2 separate regions of the Homo sapiens genome follow, and region 2 is linked to region 1. The links come from fine-mapping of genetic effects on gene expression. A gene starts in region 1. The other region holds a variant in brackets. All regions are shown on one strand. Distances are from middle to middle.

Region 1 (4,405 bases):
GGAGGCAAGGCCTGAACAGTTCCAAAGAAGCACAGTAAACTGCATGAGCAGATGGCTCAGACTCCGATGGCACATGTTCGCATTCCTTTGCTATCTCCACCTCAACCATACCTATGACCCGGGTTGGGGATGGAAAAGAGGGTTCTGTACGATCTTACACTGAAGTAGTTGAAAAAAATAAGTTTATCAGTGGTTATGTAAAATACGGCAGCTGGAATAGATGCCACACTACAGTCCCATTCAGGAGAAGACTGTGAAAGACAGAAGTGAAGGTAAGTCTTCCCACTGAACAGAAGTTTGGACAATATGTCTGGTTGTGAACCTAACAGGAAGGATAAGCACTCAGAGAAATACATCTAAATCATCTTATCAGAAACTAATAGGTGAGATGACTTGTCGGAAACTCAAAAAGAACAAAATAGAAAAATGAATGAGAAGCTAAGAGGTACATATAGAGATCATGCAGAATGGACGCGGCGTGTGTAAATATTCATTCCCATGTAAATACTCACAAGTGACATCCAGTGTTGAGGAGGAGACTCAATAATCAGGTGAACACAACATGTGCTGTGGGAAACAGTCAGCCACCTTCCCCAGACACTCGGTGTTAAATCAATGGATTGATATTGAGTGGCCACGTAGCAGAAACAGAACCATTAGCATGTGTGTGTGTGTGTGTGTGTGTGTGCGTGTTAAGTGAAATATATATAAAATAAGGAATGTGATTATGGAGGCTGGTAAGTCAAAATTCTGCAAATGAGCATGGACAGACTGGGTACCTAGGAAGGCTCAATTCAAATGCAAAGTCCACCGTCTGTAGAATCAGGAGGAGCTAATGCTGCAGATAGTCTGAAGGCCATTGCTGGAGAATTCTCTCTCACTCAGGGAAGACAAGTCTTTTTGTTCTATTCAAGGCTCCAACTGACTCAATAAGGCCCAGTCACATTACAGAGGAGGCAAATCTGCCTTACTCAAAGGTCACCTATTTAAATATGAATCCCATCCAAAAACACCCTCACAGAAATAAGCAGAATGATGTCTGATCAACTATCTGGACTCTCTGTGACTCAGCCAAGTTGACACAAAATAAACTGCCACACCTACTGAAGGAAAATCTGCCTGGCGTTTTCTGAAAAACAAACAAACAAACAAAAAAGTTTAAAAAGTTAAATTCTTTGCAAGTGATTCCGATTTTCACTAACTTGAGACTTGCTGATCTTTTATTTTCCTATTTTTGTCCCATCTAACCATCGTTATTTGGACTCTACTAGTCAAATATGTCCCAAATAACAAAATTGCTATTTTAACTTTTTTAATTTGAATTTTTATTTACCTAGACATTTGTTCTGTTTGTTTAGAGATTATTTGTTTTATTTTATTTTTTCTCTTACTTTATTATAAAAGACATGAAGGAAGGAATTATGTTTCTAATACACCGCACACAAGTGGCAGGAACACACAAGTCCATTTGTTGAAAACAGTGGAACACACTAGCTACCTTTACCTTGAAATTCACAGAATTGTAGCCAGATATTAACAAGCTTATATCCATTTTCATTTACCAACACATCCTGTGTGGTTTTAGACATCTGTGTCTGAGTAAATTTTGACTATTTTTGGCCTTCCTTTTAGTTTTCTTTTAGTACCTTGTGCCAAAGAGACATATCCAAGGTTGAGATTAGTTTCCATTTTCTTTGTACTATTTTCTGGATAATAAGACATTAGACATTTGAAGAGATGGAGAATGAAGATGGGTATATGACGCTGAGTTTCAAGAATCGTTGTAAATCGAAGCAGAAATCTAAAGGTAGGAATACTGCTCCCCATCACCGCATTTAAAATTTCATTATTCTTCTAGGAAGAGAATTATCTTAGAATATTTTTAACATCTTAACATTGATCATAATAAGGAATATAAAAATGGTCATAAATTGTCTGTTAGATTATTTAGATTCATGAAAGCATCAACAATAAAAAGTCTGCATTTTCAGAGCCATGAGGTAAGAGAAATGCGAATATGACGATGTGTAATCCTGTGTGTTGTAGCATAAGAACATCACTTTCGAAGAAAAGGCTGAAAAATTGTGTTTTTACAGAAACTTCCTCCTACAAAACTTAAAGTTTATATAAACTTAAAGCGTATATATATGCTTATATATATATTTATGCTTATACATATATAATATTTTTAATCTTCGTAAAAGCCCTATAGGATTGGTAGAACAATCTACTGGGAATGCGAGAAGAGAGAAAAAAAAACAAAAAAACATTAATCTTTGCTCCTTAGGGCTGCTCTGTGGTTGGCTTTGTTTGCTTTTTCAGGAATTTTGAAAACAATCTTGTTGAAATAGCCAAGACCTAAGTTAAGATGACATAGGCCAGAAATTCAGAATTACCAGTCGCAGTGGCAGTTCTGCCATATGTATTGAACATTCTCGTGTACAATCTCATTTTATATCTAGCAAATGCAAACTTCCCCTGCACCCCCTGCCCCCACAAAATGACACTTTTGTTATTATCTGAAGACTCAGATCTTTTTTGTGTTTCAATATCATGAAACAAATGTTTACTTTTTCAATAGTAACTTACTTCCATGCAGCAAAAACTAGTACCATTGGTGTTAAATTGACTGAGGCAGACCAGGCACGGTGGCTCATGCCTGTAATCCCAGCACTTTGGGATGCAGAGGTGGGCGGGTCACCTGAGGTCAGGAATTCGAGACCAGCCTGGCCAACATGGTGAAACCCCGTCTCTACTAAAAATACAAAAAAAATTAGCTGGGTATGGTGGCGTGTGCCTGTAATCCCAACTACTTGGGAGGCTGAGGCAGGAGAATCGCTTGAACCCGGGAGACGGAGGTTGCAGTCAGCTGAGATCATGCCACTGCACTCCAGCCTGAGTGACAGAGCAAGACTCCATATATAAAAAAACAAAAAAAATTATTCAGACCCTAAAGCCCACAGACTAAATGTATGGCTCTGGGCAGAAGCTTTTAGCCTTCTTAAATCTCAATACTTTGATATATAATAAGAAAAATCTACCTGATGATGCTTTTATGTGGATGTTAAACTAAATTTACTATTTTTTAATCTATAAACTACTTTTTAATATACAAATGTGTACAGAGACTTAAAATCTGAGTATTGATACATAAAATATAAGATAATATCCATTTAAATTATGAATGAAGGAAGGATAGGGCTGGGAAAATAAATTGGGCCAGAAAAATTACTGTAGGCATGTTTGTGCTTGCTATACATTTGCTTCCAAGCTTCCTTGTTATTACTGACCTAAGGGAATTCTTACCAGTTGTTCAGTTCACATTGTGTATAAGATAAAGTTACACCTATTCCTTAAGATTGATATAATTAATCTTGATCCTAAATCAGAAAAAATATTTTCCTGAGTTCTCATGAAGCACATAAAATAATACAATTAGTGTTCTTGCAATAGTAGCACCAGCAGATTTTGTAAGACAATTTCTTCATATAGCCCTGTGTAAGCCAATGGCATCTAGCCAAGCAGTGCTAGGATAGGCCAGCATACTGCACTTCATGTACTCAGCTCTCTGTTCACCTGGCTTGATATAGTATGTAAATCATGGCTTACATGAAAATATTAATTTTTGGTCTATTGTTCAGTTTTTTATAAATCTTATTTGGCAAGAAGTTTAAAGTCTCCCTCCCTGGCATGTATGGAAAGAGCACTTGTTAACTACAGATCCATATACCCTTGATTGATATTTTCTCATAAAATTGCAGAAATGTATTTTGACGATTTTCAATTAAGTAGAAGTCTTTCCATATTTGCTTGAACAGCAGAAATATCTACAGGGAAGAAAAAGAAAGAAAATTATTTTGGACTTAGTAATACAGACAATTGAGTAGCAAATTTCAAAAGGTACACTACATACAGTAAATTCTCTAAGTATATACTATAGATCTAATCAAATGCAGTAAATCCATAAAACCTATTGAAGTAAAGCATCCACACAGAAATTAGATTTGAGAAACAGCACTTTTATTATGACTTAGAAGACAAATTATTTGTGAAATGTACAACCAAGGTGATGAAATTAAATGTTTGTTTATAGATAAAAGAATAAAAAATAGGGAATAATTATCAGAGTATCTCAAATTACTTTGCTTTCTCTTTGGCCACTAGCCTGGCAAACTGACTAAAATGATTGTAGATTGAGATATTAATTATATGATGTCTGCATATAAAAGGAACCTGTCATAGTTTTGTGAAAAAAGTGTATACATCCAATTTATTCAAAAGTGCTAATATGTGGAAAAAAGTAGATAAAATTGAAAGAGGATTATTATACATGCCCCTGTTTAACCTCTCTAGAGATTACTTGTTTATTCCTTTATAAGGAAGCTATTCTTGCCAACTCTAATGC
Region 2 (4,405 bases), 40 kb after region 1:
ATTAGTCTGAGGGCAGCAAGGGCAGTTCCAGTGCAGAGGCAGTGGCAGAGAGGTTTCCTGTTGCCCCTGGAGGCTCTCTCTAAGACATTCCAGAGCTGCTACTGGCTCAATAGCGCTTGCGAGGGGGGCTGGAGGCCCAGGCCTGGAGGACCCTCCTGGTGAGGAGACAAGGAGATGGGCACTCATGTAACAGTCTGGCCACTTTATCATAGGGCTGCTGTGGTATGCTGGTGGCCATCTCCAGTCCCTATTTACCTCGGATTTTCTGATACCTGTAGGTACCAACAGTGAAGCCTACAAAACAGCAAAGAAGGTGGCCTGCCCCTCCCTCTGTGAGCTCTGTGCCAGGGAGGTACATAGCTATTACCGGCCCAAGAACACCTGTAGGAGGCAGCTAAAGACCCTGGTTAGAGATCCTGCCCAGTGAGGAGGAATGGGATTGGGTACCCACTTACAAGGGCAGTCTGGCCACTTTTTTGTAGAGCAGCTGTGCCGTGCTGGGGGACCACTTCCACCCCTGGTCAACTTGGACTCTCCAAAGCCTGAAGGCTGGATGGCTAAGTCACCCAAACAGCAAAGATGGCTGCCCACATCTCCCTCTGGGAGCTGTTTCAGGGAGGTGCAATGCTGTTATTGATGGCTGGCTAGAACTCCAAGCCAGTGGGTCCTATCCTGTGAGATGCCATGGAAGTGGGTCCTGCAGAATGTCGCTGCTCAGCCTCCTGGATTCAGCCCCTTTACTAGGGATGTGTAAGGGGGTCTAACCTCCCTCTTCGCTGGAGTTTCAACTACTTTTGCTGGGAAGCCTGGAACTCCTGGCTATCTGAGGCTCCCGGGTCACTGCACATGCCTGAGAGGCTGCTCTTTTGAAGCTCCACTTAGCTCTGTGTGTCAGACTGAAGGCCCCGGTGGAGTTGGTTTACAAGGGGATCTCCTGACCCGAGGGTTGCAAAGATCCATGGGAGCAGCATGGGTTCCAGGGGTTGCACATTCACTCACCACTTCCCTGGGCGAGGGGAGTTCCCCTGGCTCCATGTCGTTCCCAGGTTGGCCATCGACCTGCCTTGCTTTTCTTCATTGTCTATGGGTTGAGTTGTTTCCTTGATTAGTTCCATTGCGTGTACCCTGGATGTTTCAGTTCAAAGTGCTGTATTTACTCACCCCTTCAGTTCCTCTCTTTGAGAGCTGCGCACTCCAGCTACTTCTAGTCGGCCATCTTGGCCACTCTCCAACCCCCAGCTTTTCTTTAAAAACTAATCTATTTTCTTACTCTGTGTCCCTAGAGTCCACGTGTCTCCTTCTTTGCCCTCTTTACTTCCATTAATTCACTCGCGTCTTCGAAGTGCACATATTTCCTTCATTTCCTTGTCTCTAAATTCTAAGAGCTGTATTTTTAAAAATTTTTTCTGTCTATGCTTGGTAGAATGCAAATTGAAAAGGGTTTAAAAAATCTACTTAATAATCTAAGAACATTTAACGAAGACATTTAGATACATAAACAGTATGCATTGTGGTAAAGGACATGGCATCACTAGTCATCTTGCCTGGGTTCAAATCCCAGCCCAACAACTTATGGCTGTGTCATTGGCTGGGTTACATAACATTTCTGTGACTGACTTTCCTCATCTTTAAAGTAGGGAGAGTTATATAACTCCTTCATGGGTGTTAGTAGAAGATTACATGAGATTATATAGTTTCAGTGCTTAGAACACTGTTGAGCACACATTGTCATA[C/T]ACAGTTGACTCAAACAATGTGGCAGTTAGGGGCACTGACCGCCTGTGCAGTCAAAAGTCTGTATATAACTTTTGACTCCTCAAAAAGTTAACCATGCTGTTTATGGTATCTCATGCTAATTCTAGCACTTTGGGAGGCTGAGGCAGTAGAATTGCTTGATCTCAGTTTGAGACCAGCCTGGACAACATAGTGAGACCTCATCTCTACAAAAAATAAACAAAATTAGCCAGGAGTGGTGGTCTGCACCTGTAGTCCCAGCTACTCAGGAGGCTAAGGTGGGAGGATTGCTTGATCCCAGGAATTCAAGGCTACAGTGAGCTGAGATTGCACCACTGCACTCCAGCCTAGGTGCCAGAGTGAGACTCTGTCTTAAAAACAAACAAACAAACAAACAAAAAACAAAAACAGAAAACTTAGCCACTAGTAGCCTGCTGTTGACTGGAAGTCTTACTGGTAACATAAAAGTAAATTAACATATATTTTCATGTTATTTGAATTATATGCTGTATTATTACCATAAAGGAAGCTAGAGAAAAGAAGATGTTATTAAGAAAATCACAAGAAAGAGAAAATCTATTTACTATTCATTAAGTGGAAGTGAAGACATCGTAAAAGTCTTCATCCTCGTTGTTTTCATATTGAGTAGGCTGAGGAGGGGGAAGAAGAGGAGGGTTTGCTCTTGCTGTCTCAAGGGTGGCAGAGGAAAAATAATCCAGGTATAAGTGAACCCACACAGTTCAAACCCATGTTGTTCAAGGATCAATTGTATTATAGTATTAGCTATTATTGTTTTATTATGTTTTTATACAAACAATCTCTGAAATTACTGAAGACTTTTCTGTTTTCTTACCATGTCTTCTTGTGTATCAATCTGAGCAAGTTCTGCTTTCTGCAAACTACAAAATATTTTACTGGCTGTCCAATTTCTGGTATCATCAGAAAAATAGAAACACTTATCTCTCACTCCAAGCCAGTCCCCTGAACATGCCACAGGTTTAGCATGCTTGGACCATGTGGCTGAAAAAAAAAGAAAGAAATGATCAGATAAAGCATATGTTAAAAAGTGTTTCTACTCATTCAGGTGTATTAATTTTACTTTTTGCTTCCACAGTTTGAGGCCCGTAAGTTAGCTTCCCCCCTCCCCAGAATGAGGATGAATTAACTTCCCCTGTCTGTAAGGAAGATCATTTAGTGATCAAGCAGTGCATACTTTTTTCTATTTCCCTGGCTTCTATTTTGAGAAATGGAACCACTAGCTTCTCATAATCTATATTAATATCCTGCCAAAAACAATGCATAAAATGTAGCTATAAATTCTGCAATCAAGGTAGAGTGCTGGAGATCTGCATGTAATTTAGGTTTCGAGGTTAGGGTAAGAAATGGAGGCTTTCCTTTACCTATGAAAACACCCAAGCTAGGAAAGTGAAACTTGCCATAAAGGACAACACATAAGTGAAACATAAGAATTAGTGAAACCTTTGTTTCATTTCATTTACATCCAGTGCTGAAGAATATGGAATAATAATGAAAGCACATTGTTTGGAGATTTACTGTCTCAAGGTTTTATTTAGGTGCTAAGTATTCAGAATAAGACAAGTCCATGCATTCCACATGTTTGAATAAATTAATGCAAGTAATAAAGAGCCAACTATATGCTCAAATGTAGGGCAAACTCCAAAGGCTGCACCCCCTACTCCACCATGATTTATTATTATTATTATTATTTTGTAGTGCTCAGAAGTGGATACAGGCTACTACACAGGGTGTAAGATATAATGTGTTTCAACTCTGTCTCTGTGCTCTTTTTGTTGTGTTTTGTTTTGTTAAACTTTAAGTTCTGGGATAAATCTGCAGAGTGTGCAGGTTTGTGACGTTGGTATACATGTGCCATGGTGGCTTGCTGCACCTATCAACCCATCTTCTAGGTTTGAAGCCCCGCATGCATTAGGTATTTTGCAATCTATCCATTTGACAAAGGACTAATATCCAGAATCTACAAAGAACTTAAACAAATTTACAAGAAAAAAACAATCCCATCAAAAAGTGGGTGAAGGATATGAACAGACACTTCTCAAAGAAGACATTTACGCAGCCAACAGACACAGGAAAAAACGCTCATCATCACTGGCCATCAAAGAAATGCAAATCAAAACCACAATGAGATATCATCTCGCACCAGTTAGAATGGTGATCATTAAAAAGTCAGGAAACAACAGGTGCTGGAGAGGATGTGGAGAAATAGGAATACTTTTACACTGTTGGTGGGACTGTAAACTAGTTCAACCATTGTGGAAGACAGTGTGGCGATTCCTCAGGGATCTAGAACTAGAAATACCATTTGACCCAGCCATTCCATTACTGGGTATATACCCGAAGGATTATAAATCATGCTGCTATAAAGACACATACACACGTATGTTTATTGTGGCACTATTCACAATAGCAAAGACTTGGAACCAAACCAAGTGCCCATCAATGATAGACTGGATTAAGAAAATGTGGCACATATACACCATGGAATACTATGCAGCCTTAAAAAAGGATGAGTTCATGTCCTTTGTAGGGACATGGATGAAGCTGGAAACCATCATTCTCAGCAAACTATGGCAAGGACAGAAAACCAAACACCACATGTTCTCACTCATAGGTGGGAATTGAACAATGAGAACAC

Evidence for each region. PIP is the estimated chance that this variant, and not a neighbour inherited with it, causes the effect. A credible set is the group of variants that fine-mapping cannot tell apart.
Region 2: its variant is the best candidate, but not a certain one, in a credible set for the expression of KLRF2 in unexposed skin (GTEx, PIP 0.74).

Annotation. Positions count from the first base shown.
Region 1 is chr12:9,879,859-9,884,263 of GRCh38, forward strand. KLRF2 (killer cell lectin like receptor F2) reads left to right here and starts at 1,631. Exons shown (of 6, transcript NM_001190765.1): 1 at 1,631-1,807. The coding sequence starts at 1,738. It also overlaps a transcript of CLEC2A not described here.
Region 2 is chr12:9,919,482-9,923,886 of GRCh38, forward strand. CLEC2A (C-type lectin domain family 2 member A) reads right to left here. Exons shown (of 5, transcript NM_001130711.2): 3 at 2,585-2,751. Among named protein-coding and RNA genes, the nearest start is that of CLEC2A, 11 kb to the right of the region's middle. The variant C/T (reference allele first, on the strand shown) is at 1,734.